Regions from separate parts of the Homo sapiens genome. Here regions 1 and 2 are each linked to region 3. Evidence: fine-mapped expression QTL. A gene starts in region 3. Each other region holds a variant in brackets. All regions are shown on one strand. Distances are between the middles of the regions.

Evidence for each region. PIP is the estimated chance that this variant, and not a neighbour inherited with it, causes the effect. A credible set is the group of variants that fine-mapping cannot tell apart.
Region 1: its variant is the best candidate, but not a certain one, in a credible set for the expression of SLC27A4 in whole blood (TOPMed, PIP 0.73).
Region 2: its variant is the best candidate, but not a certain one, in a credible set for the expression of SLC27A4 in tibial artery (GTEx, PIP 0.65).

The regions. Positions count from the first base shown.
Region 1 is chr9:128,364,309-128,367,109 of GRCh38, forward strand. No RefSeq gene overlaps it. Among named protein-coding and RNA genes, the nearest start is that of URM1, 5.7 kb to the right of the region's middle. RefSeq lists enhancers at 1-621, 622-1,513 and a silencer at 855-924. The variant G/A (reference allele first, on the strand shown) is at 1,649.
Region 2 is chr9:128,296,085-128,298,864 of GRCh38, forward strand. No RefSeq gene overlaps it. Among named protein-coding and RNA genes, the nearest start is that of SWI5, 21 kb to the left of the region's middle. The variant A/C (reference allele first, on the strand shown) is at 1,467.
Region 3 is chr9:128,338,971-128,341,470 of GRCh38, forward strand. SLC27A4 (solute carrier family 27 member 4) reads left to right here and starts at 1,557. Exons shown (of 13, transcript NM_005094.4): 1 at 1,557-1,868. It overlaps TRR-TCT3-1 (tRNA-Arg (anticodon TCT) 3-1), which reads right to left and starts at 1,196; the gene lies at 1,106-1,196. RefSeq lists silencers at 934-1,575, 1,204-1,613, 1,684-2,083.

The DNA of each region.
Region 1 (2,801 bases), 25 kb after region 3:
TGGAGTTTTGCTCTTGTTGCCCAGGCTGGAGTGCAGTAGCCCAATCTCGGCTCACTGCAATCTGCACCTCCCGGGTTCAAACCATTCTCCTGCCTCAGACTCCCAAGTAGCTGGGATTACAGGCACCTGCCACCACGCCAGGCTAATTTTGTATTTTTAGTAGAGATGGGGTTTCACCATGCTGGTCAGTCTGGCCTCGAACTCCTGACCTCAAGTGATCCACCCGCCTCGGCCTCCCAAAGTGCTGGGATTACAGGCGTGAGCCACCGCGCCCAGCCCAAAGCAGGTACATTTTTATCCCCATTTCACAGATGAGGAATCTGAGGCTCAGAGAGGCAAAGTCTCTCCCAAATACCACAGAGCTTGTGAATGGCAGAACTGGGAGGAAAGTCCCCTTCCCTGAACCTCAGTGTTCCCATCTGCAAACTGTTCCTCCAGGAGAGGCTGGAAGGGGCCAGCCTCGTGCGCTCCCGGAGGTCCAGCTGCCCTCGGGACAGGCAAGTGGCTGTCCAGGCCACTGCATGGTGTATCACTTTCAGTTCCTGGGAAGAAGGTTAAATACCTCCGAGGGGCCCATTGAGGCTGCGGCAGCAAAGGAGGGGGTGACCGAGTGACTTTCAAAGGGGCTTGAAATGCGTAGCCGGCCCCTCCCCCCGAGGAGGGGGCCCTGCTTCCTCCCGGCCTAATGATATTCTGGGCTCAGCCCTCGTCTTTGGCGGCAGTTTAACCCGAGCCGGGGCGGATTTCTTTCTCACTGATCTCAGCTTGACACCCAATTAGCACAAGAATGGGAGGAGGAAGCCTGCGAGAGGCGCCTCCCAGCCTCCCGGGGCGCGCGAGGGGAGCAGGCGGGAAGACAAAGGACAGCAGGCAGGGGGGCACCCGCGCCCTCGCCTCCCCAGCCGACCCTGCCATTGTCTCCCTGCGAGCTTCAGAGAGGACGGAGGCCTACGCCCGGGCTGGCCGGCCTGCTGGAGGGAACAGGGAATGGGGCCCAAGCCCCTGTTCTGTGTGGACCCAAAGGGAAAGCATTTGGGTGAGGCTAGTCCAAGGGGAGGCAGTGAGGTCAGTGCATAAGGGGCAGGGATCCCGAGGACACAAAAGCCTGGGGCTGAGGCCTTACGGGGGCTCAGGCAAGCCACCCATTCGGAGTCTCGGTGCTCTCATCTGAAAAAGGGATCACAAAGAGTCCCTGTGAGGAGTAAATTAGGGGGTGCATGTAATGCACCTGGCAGGTGCAAAGTGGGCGTGCAATAAATACTATTTGAAAGATTATGGGTGTTAAGCTAATATTGTTACTAACTAAAGGATGGAGTGGGGTAGGCTTGGGTTAGAAGGAAGGACTTTATCAGTGATAGCTGGGCATCCACAGAGTGGGCTGGTTTACCCAAAGAGCTCACCAATCTCTGGGCTGTGCCAGGAGAAGCTGGAGGACCACCTGCCTGGGAGATTCCAGTAGGGAGGGAGTGTCTCTGGCCCCGTGCATAGACTCCCAACACCTCCTTTAGACTTGGGCTTCCATGTGACTTCCTGTGGGAAGCCTTCCCGGACCCCAGGACTAAGTTGGGGACCTCCTCTGGTTCCCACAGGCCCCGTGTTCTCCCTCCATACCATGGATTGCTCTGTCTTCTGTGGTTCCCTCTATGTG[G/A]TCTCCTTGAACATCAGCCCCAGGAGGGCAAGGAGACCCACAGGTTTTGGGGTTTGTTTTGTTTTGAGTTGGAGCCTGGCTCTGTCGCCCAGGCTGGAGTGCAGTGGCGAAATCTCGGCTCACTGCAACCTCCCCTTCCTGGGTTCAAGCGATTCTCCTGCCCCAGCCTCCCAAGTAGCTGGGATTACAGGTGTGCTCCACCACACCTGGCTAATTTTGTGTTTTTAGTAGAGATGGGGTTTCGCCATGTCCAGGCTGGTCTCAAACTCCTGACCTCAAGTAATCCACCCACCTCTGCCTCCCAAAGTGCTGGGATTACAGCGTGAGCCACCATACCTGGCCTACCGACAGGTTTTTTTTTTTTTTTCGTGGTGGTGGTTTGTTTTGTTGTTGTTTTTTTGTTTTGTTTTGTTTTTGAGACGGAGTCTCGCTCTGTCACCCAGGCTGGAGTGCAGTGACGCGATCTCGGCTCACTGCAAGCTCCGCCTCCTGGATTCACGCCATTCTCCTGCCTCAGCCTCCCGAGTAGCTGGGACTACAGGTGCCCGCCATCACACCCGGCTAATTTTTTTTTGTATTTTTAGTAGAGACGGGGTTTCACCGTGTTAGCCAGGATGGTCTCGATCTCCTGACCTCGTGATCCGCCCGCCTCAGCCTCCCAAAGTGCTGGGATTACAGGCGTGTGCCACCGCACCCGGCCAACTGACAGGTTTTGTTCATCATTGTGTTCCCAGCAGCAACACTGGCCCTGGTGTGTAATAGGTTCTCAGTGAATGTTTGTCAGGTGGATGAAGCTCTTCAAATGCTCCCAAGTGCTCCATTCCAGCTCTGGGAGGCAGTTTCCAGGTCAGGGGACACTGAGGTGGGTTGGAATCAGAGGCTGTAAAGGGCTCTGTATGCCTTCTAGGTAGGCCCTTAGCTTGTTGGCAAAGGGAAGCCATTAAGTGACTTTGAGCAGGGGACTGATATCATTCATTCATTTACTCATTCAGCAAGCTCTTGGCAAACCCCTATAGAGTACAAAGTTCCGCACTACCTGCTATAATCAAAGATGAATCAGGAAAAGTTTCTGCCCAGAAGGAGCTTAGAGTACAGTAGAAGAATCTTAGAATATGTTTGCATAGAAGACCTTAGAAGATCATTTGGTCCCAAA
Region 2 (2,780 bases), 43 kb before region 3:
TTGAGACCACCTTGGCAACATAGTGAGACCTATCCTCCACAAAAAATTTTAAAAACAGCCAAACATGGGCCGGGCACGGTGGCTCACGCCTGTAATCCCAGCACTTTGGGAGGCCGAGGTGGGCGGATCATGAGGTCAGGAGATCGACACCATCCTGGCTAACACGGTGAAACCCCGTCTCTATTAAAAGTACAAAAAATTAGCCGGGCGTGGTGGCGGGCGCCTGTAGTCCCAGCTACTCGGCAGGCTGAGGCAGGAGAATGGCGTGAACCCGGGAGGCGGGGCTTGCAGTGAGCCGAATTGCGCCACTGCACTCCAGCCTGTGCGACAGTGCAAGACTCCGTCTCAAAAAAAAGAAAAAAAAAAACAAAGCCAAGCATGGTGGTACCCAGCTACTCAGGAGGTTGAAGTGGGAGGATCGATCCAGCTCAGGAGGTCAAGGCTACCATGAACCATGATCACACATTGCACTCTAGCATGGGTGATAGAGTGAGGCCCTGTCTTGAAAAAAAGGAGGGGCCGCTTGGGGAGAGAGGGAAGGGAGGAAGCCCAGGCCAAGGGCCCAGTGCCTCTGTGGTTGGGGCTAAGGGATGTTGGGGCCCCCAACCCTGATTCTTCGGAGGAATTGGGAGGAAAGCTCCAGGTTCCACGTCATGTGGATGGGCCTGAGAATGAGGTGAAAGGTAACAATCACACACCCAAACCAGTTATGAGCCAAAGGTTTCACCAGATAAGGGATTGATGGCCACAATCACCAGCACATATGCAATTCTGTGGGTCAGACAGGGAGCTGAGTCACCATGCCCCGCAGTATCTCATTGACTGCCCCCAACAACAGAGAGTGGTTGAGAGTCCCCATTTCCAAATGGAGCAAACTGAGGCTCAGGGGGATGCAGATAAGTAGCGAAGCTATCTGATTCCAGAACCTGGCTGAGTAGCCACAGTGTGCTGCCTGCCTCCCCAGTGGAGCCTCTTGAGTCTCTTATCTGAGGTCGGGCATTACTAAAACAGGAATCGGAACTTGAACCCAGCACTCTCCAAGCCCTTAAGCCTCAGGTCTTAACCACAGAGCCCTGCTATGTTTGTTGTATGTTGTATCTGCCCAGGGCCCTGACCTAGCGGCCAGGTCAGTGGCCAGAAATGATCAGCCTCTGCCTTGGACTTGGCCTGGGCCCCTCCTTCCTGGTTCCTGTAGGTAGCCTGCTCGGCTTCCTTCCCAGTGAGCCTCCCATTCCTAACATCAGCAATTCTGGACAGGAGTAAAGTCCCTCTTGACCTTTGACTCCTTCAGCTTCTCATGTTCATCCCACAATCCCAAAAGTTCTTGGCGGAATAATCATTATAGCAGCTAATGAGCACATTCTAACTTGGAGAACATTCTCTGTGCCAGACCCTGAGCCTAATGCTCTGCCTATCACATGTGTTCCTCATGGCCACCCTGAGAGGTAGGTAGAGTTGTCCCCATT[A/C]TCCAAATGAGGTAAATGAGGCTCAGAGAGGTTAAGTCACTTTCCCAAGGAAGCACAGAGAAGGAGCAGACTCAGAGTTTGAAGGGGTTTCAAACACTTGCTCTTTAAAGGCCAGGTACTAATTCCCAAACTTCTGAGTATCACAATTATCTGAGGGGGATGTTTTGTTTTGTTTTGTTTTGGAGACAAGGTCTTGTCTTGTCTCTGTTACCCAGCTGGAGTGCAGTGGTGTGATCAGGGCTTACTACAGCCTCAACCTCTCAGACTCAAGCCATCTTGCCAGCCCAGCCTCCTGAGTAGCTGGGGCTACAGGCACATGCCACCATGTCCAACTCATTTTTGTATTTTTTGTAGAGATTGTGTCACCCTATGTTGCCCAAGCTGGTCTTGAACTCCTGGGTTCAACCAATCCACCCACCTCAGCTTCTCAAACTGCTGGGATTGAGAGGGATTTTTTAAATAAAGATTTGGGGCTGGGTGCCTATAATCCCAGCATTTTGGGAGGCTGAGGTGGGAGGATCACTGGAAGCCAGAAGTTTGACACCAGCTTGGGCAACATAGCAAAACCCCATCTCTACAAAAAATACAAAAATTAGCCAGGTGTGGTGCCATATCCCTGTGGTTCCAGCTACTTAGAAGACTGAGGCAGGAGGATCCAGGTCGAGGCTGCAGTGAGCCGAGATCATGCCACTGCACTCCAGCCTGGGTGACAGAAAGAGACGCTGTCTCTTATAAATAAATAAAGATGTGGGTGTCCAACCTCTAGGAATCCTGACTTTGCAGGCCCAAAAATATATTTTAATAAACTCCTTGGGTATTGTTTTGTTTTGTTTTGTTTTGTTTTGTGTTTGAGACAGAGTTTCACTCTTGTTGCCCAGGCTGGAGTGCAATGGCACAATCTCAGCTCACTGCAACCTCCGCCTCCCGGGTTCAAGCGATTCTCCTGTCTCAGCCTCCCAAGTAGCTGGGATTACAGGCATGTGCCCCCATGCCCAGCTAATTTTGTATTTTTAGTAGAGACAGGGTTTCACCATGTTGGTCAGGCTGCTCTCGAACTCCTGACCTCAAGCGATCCACCCGCCTCAGCCTCCCAAAGTGCTGGGATTATAAGCATAAGCCACCGCGCCTGGCCCCTTGGGTGTTCTTGCTACATTGCTCTGTGCGCGTACCTTGATGGTTGATGAAATTGCTTCTTCTGACTACCAGTAATCACATCCTCTGAAATCCTGCCTCAAAACCAGCCCATCTTCAAACACATCTACACAGCCACCTGACCCTAAATGTTTGCTGTGGTCCGTGCTAGATCAAACCCAG
Region 3 (2,500 bases):
AACCTTTGCCTCCCGGGTTCAGTGATTCTCTTGCCTCAGCTCCTGAGTAGCTAGGATTACAGACGTGCACCACCACGCTCGGCTAAGTTTTGTATTTTTAATAGAGACAGGGTTTCGCCCTGTTGGCCAGACTGGTCTCGAACTCCTGACGTCATGTGATCTGCCCACCTCAACCTCCCAAAGTGCTGGGATTACAGGCATGAGCCACTGTGCCCAGCTTATTTTTATTTTTTGAGACACGGTCTTACTTTGTTGCCCAGGGTGGAGTTTAGTGGTGCAATCACAGCTCACTGCAGCCCCAAGTTCCAGAGCTCAAGCAATCCTCCCACCTCATCTTCCTGAGTAGCTGGGAGTACAAGCAAGAGCTACCTGGCTAATTTTTTTTTTTTTCCTGTAGAGGCAGAGTCTCACTATGTTGCCCAGGCTGGTCTTGAACTCCTGGCTGAAGTGATCCTCCTGCCTCAGCCTCCAAAAGTGCTGGGATTACAAGCTTGAGCCACCACGCCAGTCCCAGAATCTTTTTTTTTTTTTTTTTTTTTTTTTTTTTTGAGATGGAGACTTGCTCTGTCGCCCAGGCTGGAGTGCAGTGGCGCAACCTCGGCTTACTGCGACTTCCGCCTCCCAGGTTCAAGCAATTCTCCTGCCTCAGCCTCCCAGGGATCTATTAATGTTTAAGGACAAGTGGCAACTGTGGATGCCCAACATGGTTACTTAACAAGAAACCAATTTTTCAGAGGCCAAGAGTCCCAACAGGGCCGAGAATCTGGCCACTCGCCTATGGCTCTGGAGGTGGCATGACAAATAAGGGTGGCATGACAAATATAGGTTAACTGATTTGTTGCAGGGACCAGAGATCATAGATGGTGAAGTTAACTAAGGGCCTCCAAATCCGTGTCCTTTGTGCCAACAGGTGTGCCAGGCTGCTCACAAGACACCATGGTACGAGAAAGGATTTCTCGTAGTCACCTAGACACCAGGTTTATGGCTGTGTCGCAGCAAAGTTGGGTGTGACTTATGATTTTCGTTCTGAACCTTATTTGTTAGATAGGTCCTGGAGTCCTTAAAACACGCAGGTGAAAGTCAGGGAGTAGGAGCCATCAAAATTCGACTCTGGTGGGACTCGAACCCACAACCTTTGAATGACCACACTAGGCTCAGCTAGAAGTCCAATGCGCTATCCATTGCGCCACAGAGCCGGCTGCGGAACCCGGCCGCCCCGCTCACCTCTGCCTGAAACCGCCCTCTTAGCGAGCTTCTAGGTGTGGTGCTGGGTGTTTGCTGAACTCGGCCGGGGCCCGAGAGCGTGCTCCGGGTTTTCGGCTGTGGTGTGGACTGGGGTGCTCTTCCTACATCCGGGCGCTGGGGACAGCAGGGGGCAAGGGCCGGGGTCGGCAGGGAGGAAGGGCCGGGGTGAAGCCCGCCTGTCTCCTCGCGGACTCGGGGGTCTCCTCGGCTGGGTGGGGCCGCGCGGCGTGGACTACAACTCCCAGCGTGCCGCGCGGCGGCGCCGCCCGAAGCCGTTGCGCGAGCAGGGCGGGCTGGGGCCGAGCGGCGTCAGGCGCGCTGGGGCTGCGCTGCGCCGCCGGCTCTGTGGCTTGCCGGCTTCGGGGAAGGTGCGGCAGGCGGTGCTGCGGCCTGGCACAGCAGGTTTGGGGTGCGGGAGGCGGGCGGGGTAGGAGCGCGGCGGGCGGGGCCGGGCGGCGGGCGGGGCTGGCGGGGCGGCCGGGCCATGCAGGGCGCAGAGCCGGCTAAACCCTGCTGAGACCCGGCTCCGTGCGTCCAGGGGCGGCTAATGCCCCTCACGCTGTCTACGCTGCTGCAACCGGGCCGCATCTGGACGGGGCGCCGCGCGGCGGAGCCGACGCCGGGTGAGCATAGACCGGGCTGGTGGGTTCCCGGGTGGGGACATGTGCCAGGCCGAGTCGGGCGAGGTGGCGGTGCGGACCCCAGGTGGGGGGCGCGCCCTGCGGCGCTATTTCCCCGACAGACGCACTGTTACCTTGCTGTCTAGGGGCGAGGGCGGCACGCGTGACCCGGGACAGGGGCCCGAGGGAACTAGTCACCCTCTTCTGGCCTCTTCTTGCCCCAGCCTTCCAGGACAGGTTCCTGCCCCTCTGCTATGGCGGGCTATGGGAGGCCAGAGATCTGAGGACCCTGGACCCTGGCGTTGGGGTTGAGGACTCTGGTTCAGTTCCCCCGCCCCCGGCTTTTGCTTTTCGCGAGGGGGAGGGGGAGATGGTCTCCCAGGGCTTCTTGTGGTCCAGACCATTCCCTTTTCCTGGCTTGGAGGCTCTCAGGCCATTTCACATTTGTGACCTTCATCTACTCCCAAGAACAGGAAAACTCGGAGAAAAACAGTCCCATCAGATGTCCCCTTGATCGAGTCCTCAAAGCTCCAGGAATAGAACCCAAGAGTCCTAGCTCAACCCAGCCCCTGAAGCACAGTCAAGTCATTCGCCTTCCCCTAAGCCCTAGACCCCAAAGATTCATCCGAGTGGCT